Regions from separate parts of the Homo sapiens genome. Here region 2 is linked to region 1. The links come from fine-mapping of genetic effects on gene expression. A gene starts in region 1. The other region holds a variant in brackets. All regions are shown on one strand. Distances are between the middles of the regions.

The links.
Region 2: its variant is fine-mapped to the expression of ANXA7 in whole blood (TOPMed, PIP 0.97).

What each region holds. Positions count from the first base shown.
Region 1 is chr10:73,411,826-73,417,352 of GRCh38, reverse strand. It overlaps ANXA7 (annexin A7), which reads left to right and starts at 3,295. Exons shown (of 13, transcript NM_001156.5): 1 at 3,295-3,341. RefSeq lists a silencer at 3,112-3,671 and enhancers at 4,072-4,151, 4,162-4,281.
Region 2 is chr10:72,845,520-72,850,519 of GRCh38, reverse strand. All of the region lies in intron 2 of MCU (mitochondrial calcium uniporter), which reads right to left. Among named protein-coding and RNA genes, the nearest start is that of OIT3, 46 kb to the left of the region's middle. The variant A/G (reference allele first, on the strand shown) is at 2,086.

The DNA of each region.
Region 1 (5,527 bases):
GCATTTGGTCACAAGCTTGGTATGTTTGGACCGAAGGCCACTGTGTTCAGAGGTTAGTGATTAAGGAAAGTGAAGGCCAGGCGCCGTGGCTCACGCCTGTAATCCCAGCACTTTGGGAGGCCGAGGCAGGTGGATCACGAGGTCAGGAGATCAAGACCATCCTGGCTAACATGGTGAAACCCCGTCTCTACTAAAAATACAAAAAAATTAGCTGGGCGTGGTGGCAGTCACCTTTAGTCCCAGCTACTTGGGAGGTTCAGCCAGGAGAATGGTGTGAACCTGGGAGGCGAAGCTTGCAGTGAGCTGAGATTGCACCACCGCACTCCAGCCTGGGCGACAGAGCAAGACTCCGTCTCAAAAAAAAAAAAAAAAAAGTGAAAAGGGATTAGATGAGCGATGTAGGCAGGGACCAGATTATCTAGGGCTTAATAGACCATCAGGAGTTTGGATTTTATTTTATTCTGGTTCCAGTGGGAAGCTATTAAAAAAGTTTAATCACGGGAATTACATGACCCAATTTATTCTTTAGAAAGATCACTCTGACTCAGGGTTTCTTAACCTCAGCACTATTGACTTTTTGGGCTGAATAATTCTTTGTGTAGGGACTGTAGGCATTGTAGGATACGTACCTTGTTTAGAATCCTTGGCTTTCACCCACTAGATGCTAGTAACCCCACCACCTCCCCTCAGTTGTGACAAACAAAGATGTCTCCACACATTGTCAGGTGTCCCTGAGGGACAAAATTACTATTCTAATGGAACAAAAAGGATATGAACTTAAATACCAGACTCTGGGCCAGGCGTGGTGGCTCACACCTGTAATAATCCCAGCACTTTGGGAGGCCGAGGTGGGTGGATCACCTGAGGTCAGGAGTTCGCCTGGGCAACATGGCAAATCACCGTCTGTATTAAAAATATAAAAATTTAGGCCGGACGTGGTGGCTCATGCCTGTAATCCTAGCACTTTGGGAGGCTGAGGCGGGTGGGTCATGAGGTCAGGAGATCGAGACCATCCTGGCTAACACAGTGAAACCCTGTCTCTACTAAAAATACAAAAAATTAGCCAGGCGTGGTGGTAGACACCTGTAGTCCCAGCTACTCGGGAGGCTGAGGCAGGAGAATGGCGTGAACCCAGGAGGCAGAGCTTGCAGTGAGCCGAGATCGTGCCACTGCATTCCATCCAGCCTGGGCAACAGAGTGAGACTCTGTCTCAAAAAAAAAAAAAAAAAAAAAAAAAAAAAAAGCTGGGCGTGGTGGCGGATGCCTGTAATCCCAGCTACTTGGGAGGCTGAGGCAGGAGAATTCGTTGAACCTGGGAAGCAGAGGTTGCAATGAGCTGAGATTGTGCCATTGCACTCCAGCCTGGGCAACAGAATGAGACCCTGTCTCAAAACTACAAAAACAAACAAAAAAAAACCAGACTCTGATACAGTGGGATGTTCACATTAGAAGCATGATGGCTCTTATTTCACATGAACTCTGGAACATACCATGGCCTTCAGAGATGTTGACCAGGTATGGTGGCTCATGCCTGTAATACATCCAGCACTTTGGGAGGCTGAGGCAGGTGGATCGCTTGAGGCCAGGAGTTCGAGACCAGCCTGGCCAACATGGCGAAACCCCATCTGTACTAAAAATACAAAAAAATTAGCTGGGCGTGGTGACATGCCTCCCAGCTACACGGGAGGCTGAGGCATGAGAATCGCTTGAACCCCGGAGGCAGAGGTTGCAGTGAGCCTAGATCGCACCACAGCACTCCAGCCTGGGTGACAGAGCAAGACTCTGTCTCCAAAAAAATTAAAAAATTAAAATGGTCCAGTTGAGTACAAAAAAGAAGATCAGGAAGAGTTTATTGGAGCAAGACGGAGATGAGCAACCTTGAAAACAAGTCTAATTAAGATGAGTAATTGTTAAAAGATGAGCAGTGCTTTCTAAGCAGAGGTAGCAGGAGGAAAGGGTCTCCGATCCTGTAACGCCTTTTATGCCAGGAAGAAAGGATGAATTGAAAGGATGAAATGGCAAATGTCGTAGTAGACTATTGGACTATTCCTGCAGCTCAGGAAAGTGGGCTGGAAATAAGAGGTTTGGCAAATACCCTGTTATGGTGGTATTTAAGGCAGAGGGAGGGTTTGGAACGAGCTCACAAAGGGAACTCTAGAATGAACAGAGTAGGCTTCTCAGGGAAGGCTTAAATCCTGGAGGTCTCTGGGGTAGGTAGGACAGAAAGTCCTGTTATTTTCCAGGTAGACAGACTGTTGGGCGCCGGGGAATTAATGCTGGTCACCTAGAGAGTTGTGCATTTTGTCTACCATTGTTAAATGAGGCAATGACCTGCCTCAAATACTTTTCACTCCACACACCTATTTGGAAGCCACGTATATTTTGCTTGCTCTTCCCATTTAAAATCGTAATCCACTCTATTCCACCCCCATGAGGAAGCTTTTGGGTAGAAAAGTGTGTAGAGGAATAAGTAAGTTGATGTGCATCAGATGTGCAAACTTTAGTGTGCATCAGAACCACCTGGAAGGCTTGTTAAAACAGGTTGCTGGGCACCACCCGGGGAGTTTGATTCAGTAGGTCTAAGGTGGAGTTCAATAATCTGCGTTACTAACACGTTTCCAGGTGATGCTGCTGTTCGGGGGACCACACCCAGAAGCTACCTTTTACCACTCTAAAAGGTAGCTGATTGGTTTTCTCTGTAATATAAATTCCTTAACGAGTTTAAAATATTGATCTGAGCCCTCGTAATTGCCTCAAATGTTTAATGCTAATGTGTGTTCAATGCTGTAGCCACGAGGGGAGCCTAAAATCACCTAACAACTCCTTTCGGGAGTGATTTTGATTAGTTCATCTACAGTTCCAACTAAGATTTCCCACAAATATTACTTTCACAGGAGGCTAACAAAAAACGCCGTCTTTGTCCCCAGAAAATACCTGGAGGACGGTATTTCAGAGGCGGGGAGGCTGCACCAGCCTCCCAGTCTCAGCCCTTCTCTACCGCCCGCCACTGAAGGGGCCCCGGATACCCCCAGGACTGCTGCAACTTCCTAGGTGACTTGAGGCAGCCTTAAAAGGGATTGGTGCAGGGTCCTTGCGACAGATAAATGTGATTAAAAATCCGCTGGGCCACCCGAAGGGAGAGTCTTTTTCCCTCAGGTGGCGCCTAGGGGCGGGACTGAGGGACAGCCCGCTCCCCGCAGCGCCCTCTCCGGCTCCGGGGGTGTTCCCGGCTGCAGCCGCGATCCTAACGGGCTCGCGAGACGCCCCGCCCACCCTGGGCCCGCCCCCGGCTCCATCTTGCGGGAGACCGGGTTGGGCTGTGACGCTGCTGCTGGGGTCAGGTGAGGAGCGGCGCCCCCCTCCCTTTCCCACCTCGTCTGCCTCGGTGGTCTTGCCCTCGGCCAGCTCTGGGCGCTGCTGTCCCGGTGCTAGTGGGGCGCGGCTGGAGGGCAGTGTGGGCCTCCCGGATGGCGGCGACTCGGTTTGCGCGTCTCGTAGCCGGGCTGCCGGCCGGGGTGTGTTGGGGTGGCGTGGGTGAGGCGGCCGGCCTGGCTTACGGGAAGCCCTTCCGTCCGTTTGGAAATCCCAGGGACCAGTGGCGCCCCGCCCTCGGGCAGGTGGAGGGGCTGAGGCCGGAGCGTGGCCCAGCTGCCTCGCGGGAGGCTGAGTAGGGAAACGCACGGGCAGTGCTGAAAGCCGTCTGGCTGGTAGTGGCTGTACTTTCCGGTGACACAGCGAATTTAGGGAAACTTGGGGAAATTTTTACTGTGTTTAGTGAACCGTAGGACAGAATGCGCCAGGCCAAGGTCGTACACTGGTTCTCGTTTACAGTTCTTGGAAGCTATTCTAGAATAGCATTCCAGATTTGATTGCTGTTCCCCGACCAGCAGCAAATCTGTGTTGAAATTAGCTCATCCTGTGCAAACACTGCGCAAGGAAACCAAGGTGCAGAGGTAGATGGCTGATGTCCACCGTAAAGTGACAGACATGACGCTGTTGTCTTCCGACTGCCGTAAACGCCCTGATTTTTGCCAGCTGATGGCCAGCTAATCTGCTAAATGTGTCCGAATTAGATGATGAGTGTAATGAGTTACCTTCCAGGCAAGGAAAGAGTTTCAAGCACTGAATAGGTAAAAGAGATAATTTTGGCCACTGCAAACTTTCAGTCCTTTTCAGTGAGGACTGTCTTTCAGTCCTCACTGGTGGTTGGCTACCTACCTGTCCGTGCAGAGGACTAGCCATGCCTCCATGTTCTTTCTCCACATCACTGACGGATTTAAATGATCCTACCATACCTAGAAGCCGGTTTTGCAAAATTGTATTCGCTGTTGCGCGTATCTTCAGTCACCCTTCCTGTTTCGTGTATTTTTTCCCCCATAAATTTGCAACAGCTGCCTCTTGGGTTCCTGGGCTTCATGCCATCAATGAGAAACGGTGAGACCCAGCCCTTTTACTAACTGACTCACTGGGTGGAGGTGGTTTGGAAAACCAAAAATGATTTTCTAGTCTTTTAAAAGTGATTGCTAACAGAGAATGTTTAAAAAAAAAAAAAAAAAAGCCCGAGCGCGGTGGCTCACTCCTGTAATCCTAGCACTTTGGGAGGCCGAGGCGAGAGATTCACGAGGTCAGGAGGAGTTTGAGACCAGCTTGACCAACACGGTGAAACCCCGTCTCTACTTAAAAATACAAAAATTAGCTGGGCGTGGTGGCGCGCGCCTGTAATCCCAGCTACTCTGGAGGCTGAGGCAGGAGAGTCGCTTGAACCCGGGAGGCAGAGGTTGCAGTGAGCCAAGATCGCCACTGCACTCCAGCCTGGGCGGCAGAGAGAAACTCTGTCACAAAAAAAAAAAAAACCCAAAAAACTCTAGACTTACTATTCACTTGGGCAAAGTTGAGAAATTTTTTGAGTCACTCTGGGTGTTATTTAGCTTTTTACAAAAACGTTTAAAATCTGCCTCTTGAATAAATGATATATGTACAATTCTAAAAGGGCTAAAGTACATTGAAAAGTAAGTCTCGGCCGGGCGCAGTGGCTGTCGCCTGTAATCCCAGCACTTTGGGAGGCCTAGGCGGGAGGATCACGAGGTCAGGAGATCGAGACCATCCTGACTAACACGGTGAAACCCCGTCTCTACTAAAAATACAAAAATTAGCCGGGCGTGGTGGCAGGCGCCTGTAGTCCCAGCTACTCAGGAGGTTGAGGCACAAGAATCTCTTGAACCCCGGAGGCGGAGGTTGCAGTAAGCTGAGATCGTGCCACTGCACTCCAGCCTGGCAACAGAGCGAGACTCCATCTCAAAAAAAGAAAAAAGAAAGGTAAATAGTCTTCTCCATTGTGTCCCAGCTCTTCATCCAGGAAGCAGTCACTGTTTTCTACTTCCTTGAGTGTCCTTTCAGGGATATTCTATAAGTCAAAATCAGTGCATTTTTTACACATAATGGCAGCACACTATGCAGTTTTTCACTTTGCCTTTTTTTTTTTTCATTAATACGTGTTATAGATGGTTTCATATATGGGTAAAAGAAA
Region 2 (5,000 bases), 570 kb after region 1:
GTATGAAGTTTGGCTGGTGTTCAAAACAATGAGTAAAATCTCCACTAAAATATATCACCTGTATATATCTTGAGGGCTTATTATGAAAGGGACTTGGTACACAAGGAAGCACATGTTGGGGTTTTTCCGCAAAGCTACTTGGAGTAGAACTATATATGATGGATGATTTCAGGGGCTTATGATCTTAACATTGTCGATTTCCTCCCCATTTTCTGTAATATTCTGCATCATAAGTGTGAGATATAATCATAGAATTTCAGTGTTGGAAGGCCAGACAGATCATACAAACTAACATCCTTCTTTTGCAGCTAAGAATAACAGAGTCTAGTAACGTTAGATAATATTCCTGGGCCAGGCGCGGTGGCTCACCTGAGGTCAGGAGTTCGAGACCAGTCTGGCCAACATGGTGAAACTCCATCTCTACTAAAAATACAAAAAATTAGCTGGGTGTGGTGGCAGACACCTGTAATCCTAGCTATTCAGGCACCTGAGGCAAGAGAATTACTTGAACCTGGGAGGCGGAGGTTGCAGTGAGCTGAGATCGTGCCACTGCACTCCAGCCTGGGCAACAAGAGCAAAATTCTGTCTAAAAAAAAAAAAAAAAGAAAAAGATAATACTGCTAAGGTCACAGAGTTCAATCCAATGCAATTTGGATCTCATCATTTGACTAAGAAATCCTCTTCTAGGTCACACATGACATTAGGTTGCTAAATTCAGTAGAAATTTTAGCTCTTAACTTGCTTGTTTTAGCAGTATCTAATGATGTTAACGACTCCCTCCCTTTGTAAAAAGTTTCCCCACCAGCTTCTATGATGCTTCTAGCTTTTCTTTCTGTCTAGACCTTCTAATTTCCCCTCATAAGCTATTCTTCCTCTATTCATCCCTTAAAAGTTTCTAAGTGCTTTGTCCTAGGCCTCTGTGCTTCTCAATTCACACACTCTCTAGGAAATCTCACGTCCTCCCAAAGTCTCATGTAAATGCTGATGATATCCCAAGCCTATATTCAATTGTCTGCTAGAAATTGGGTCTCCCACAGCCATAACTGAAACTCAAAAGTCCTAAAAGTGAATCCATCTTCCCTAACCACCCATAATCTCAACCAATAACACCACCATTATTTTATTTTTGACCAAGCCAGAAAATTACCTGGCATCCTTGACTATTCATAGAGCCAGAATCTGACATTCCTCATATCTTATCAGTCATCATGTGCTTTCATTCGATTTTTTTTTTTTTTTTTTTTGGAGTCTTGCTCTATCACCCACGCTGGAGTGCAGTGGCAGAATCTCAGCTCACGGCAACCTGCGCCTCCCAGGCTCAAGCGATTCTCCTGCCTCAGCCTCCCGAGTAGCTGGGATTACAGGTGCCTGCCACCATGCCCGGCTAATTTTTTTGTATTTTTAGTAGAGACATGGTTTCACTATGTTGGCCAGGCTGGTCTCGAATGCCTGACCTCGTGATCCACCCGTCTCGGCCTCCCAAAGTGCTGGGATTACAGGTGTGAGCCACCAACCCCGGCCCTTTCATTCTATTTTTTAAACAGCTCTAAGCCCTCTGATACTGTCTACACTACCACCATTTTAGTCCAGGCCACCACCATCTCTTTCTTCTATCAGCTACATTGTAATTGGAGTCCTTAATTCCAGCCTTGCTCCAGTTCAATTTTCCACACTGAAGCAGGGTGATCTTTTTCCAAATGAAGCCACTATCCTGAAGTTGGTAGTTGGTGTTTACCATTTCCATCCATTTATACATACACACACGCACAGGCAGACACACACACACACATACACAAACATATATCTCAATACACAATATTTAGTACTGTGATAGCCAGCCTTCAAGAAGGCTCTCTATAATTCTTGCCTGTAAGTATTTGCTATGGTTTGAATGTCTCCTCCAAAACTCACCTTGAAATTTAATTGCCACTTTAACAGTGTTGAGAGGCAGGACCTTTAAGAGGTGATTAGGTCATGAAGGCTCTGCCCCATAACTGGATTTTTGCCATTATCATAGGAGTGGGTTAGTTACTGGGGGAGTGGATTCCTGATAAAATCCACTCCCAAAAACGGTGAGTTCAAGTC[A/G]ATTTCCCCTCTCTGTCTTCTGTGCACACTTCCTCACCATGTGATGCCTTCTGACATGTTACAATGCAGCAAGAAGACCCTCACTAGATGGACTCCTCGATCTTGGATTTCCCAGAACTGTAAGCCAAATCAATCTTTTCTTCATAAATTACTCAGTTTGCAATTGATATAGCAGCAAAGAAATGGACTAAGATAGTATAGATGCCTCTTGACTTATGATGAGATTACCTCTGCATAAACCCACTGTAAGTCAAAAAATGCATTTACTACTCCAACAAATCCATCATAAAGTCAAAAAACCATAAGTTGAACCATCAGAAGTCAGGGATTGTCTATATTCATGCCCTGTGTAGTGTCACCCACATCAAATCAGGGCTGGTCTGCAGAACCAATATGATACAGCTGAAGTGATGATGTGTACTTCCAAGACTATGTCATAATAGGCTTTACTTCTGCTTTGGTCTCTTGTACACTTGCTCTAGGGGAAGCCGGTCATCATATCATGAGGACAATCCTGCAGCCCTATGGAGAAGCCCACATGGAGAAGTGGTACCTTCTTGACCAAAAGTAAACTTGTCAACCATGTTAGTGAGTCACCTTAGAATCAGATCTTCCGGCCTCAGTCAAGCCAGATGATTAAGGCCCTGACTGACATGGGGCTGCACCCTCAAAAGACTACAAACTGCTCAGCCAAACTATTCCTAAATCCCTAATCCACAGAAACATGAGAGATAATAAAAGATTAGTTTATGCCCCTTTGTTGTAATTTGCTGTACAGTATTAAATAACCAAATATAGTATGACTTTGCATATATTTATATTTTATAGTAATATCTCCTATACATGGAGGATATGTTCTAAGACTCTCAGTGAATACCCAGCTGCAGATAGTACAGAACCCTATATATAGTATTTTTTTTGCTATACATACATACCTATGATAAAGTTGAGGAACTACCTATTTCTGGCTTTTGACTGGGGGCTATGCTTCCCAGCCTGTTAGAATGGCCACCCTGAAGGTTGCAACCCTTTATGAGAAATGAAGTTCTCCTTTCCAAATTTATAAACCTTGGAATTCTTCAGTTGACACGAGTGGCCTATGAGGATGGGATCTGTGGAGAACCCCAGGTTCCCCCAACTTGATCAGAAATCATTATACAGGACAGGTGCGGTGGCTCATGCCTTAAATCCCAGCACTTTGGGAGGCCGAGTCGGGCAGATTACTTGAGGTCAGGAGTTCTAGATCACCCTGGCCAACATGGCAAAACTCCGTCTCTAGTGAAAAAGTGCAAAAAATTAGCTGGGCATGGTGGCGTGTGCCTGTAGTCCCTGTTACTTGGGAGGCTGAGGCAGAAGAATCGCTTGAACCCGGGAGGCGGAGGTTGCAGTGAGCCCAGTTTGCACCACTGCACTCCAGCCCGGGCGACAGGGTGAGACTTCGTCTCAATAAAAAAGGAAATCAATACACTGACATCTAAAGCTCAGCTGTCTCCCTGACCACACTGGGAGGAAGTTTCCCTGGATCTAAGATCTCCTACTTTTAGGTAGATTTTGGAGGCTTTATTCCTCTCCATTTGGATTATTCCTTTCCACTCCTTCCCTTCATTGCTTCCTGGTCCCTTCCCAGTCCCTATCCTGGTTCCCTCCATCTGGACCCTAAAGGGAACAACTTTGTTAGCTCTGGCTTTGAGGGGTGGGAGGAGCCTTCCCAGGCCAGTCAAACATTTTCATTTTCAAAAAAGAAGAAAAAAAATTTTTTTAAGTTTAATTTATAAATTAGGCAAAATAAGAGATTATCAGAAAGAACTAAGAAAAAAATAGAACAATTAAAACAACATGCCAGCATCACTACTCTTGTACATGGGGGGTTAGTATTAAGTAAAATAAGGGTTACTTGACCACAACTGCTGCAGTACTACAACAGTCAATCCGGTAACTGAAACAGCTACTAAGTGACTAATGCGCGAGTAGCATATAAAGCATGGATATGCGGAACAAAGGGATGATTCACATCCCAGGTGGGACTGAGCAGGAGAGCACAAAATTTCATCACACTACTCAGAATAGCATACAATTTAAAACTTATTAATTGGGCCGCGTGCAGTGGCTCACACCTGTGATCCCAGCACTTCGGGAAGCTGATGCAGGCAGATCACTTGAGGGCAGGAGTTTGAGACCAGCCTGGCCAACATGGTGAAACCCTGTCTCTGCTGAAAATACAAATATTAGCTGGGTGTGGTGGCAGGCACCTGTAATCCCAGCTACTCGGGAGACTGAGGCAGGAGAAGTGCTTGAACCTGGGAGGCAGAGGTTGCAGTGAGCTGATATTGCACCACTGCACTCCAGCCTGTGACAGAGCAAGACTCTGTCTCAAAAAAAAAAATTGTTTATTTCTGGAATTTTCCATTTAATATTTTCAGACTGCGGTTGCCTGTGGGTAACTGAAACTATGGAAAGTGAAGCCATGGAAAAAGGGGTGGAGGGGAGACTCCTATATATAAAGGATCATGGTGTATACAAACCTCTAAAACTTGCCTTTTATGATAATCATTGCTTTGAGGTTTATCAAAGTTGGATCGTATTTCTGGAAATATTCACTTAAACTCCTATATATAAGGAAGTGGTAAATTTTAAAAAAAGAAAAAAACACTCCTATATAGAATTTCATTCTATGAATACATTGCTTAACGACAGGGATACATTCTGAGAAATGCATCATTAGGTGATTCTGTCACTGTGTGAACATCATAGATAATATTTACAAAACCTAGAAGGTATAGCCTACTACACACCTAGTAGGTATCTAGGTATTGCTCTTAGGCTACAAACCTGTATACCATGTTACTGTGCTGAATACTGTCAGCAACTGTAACACAGTGGTAAGTATTTGTATATCTAAACATTTCTGAACACAG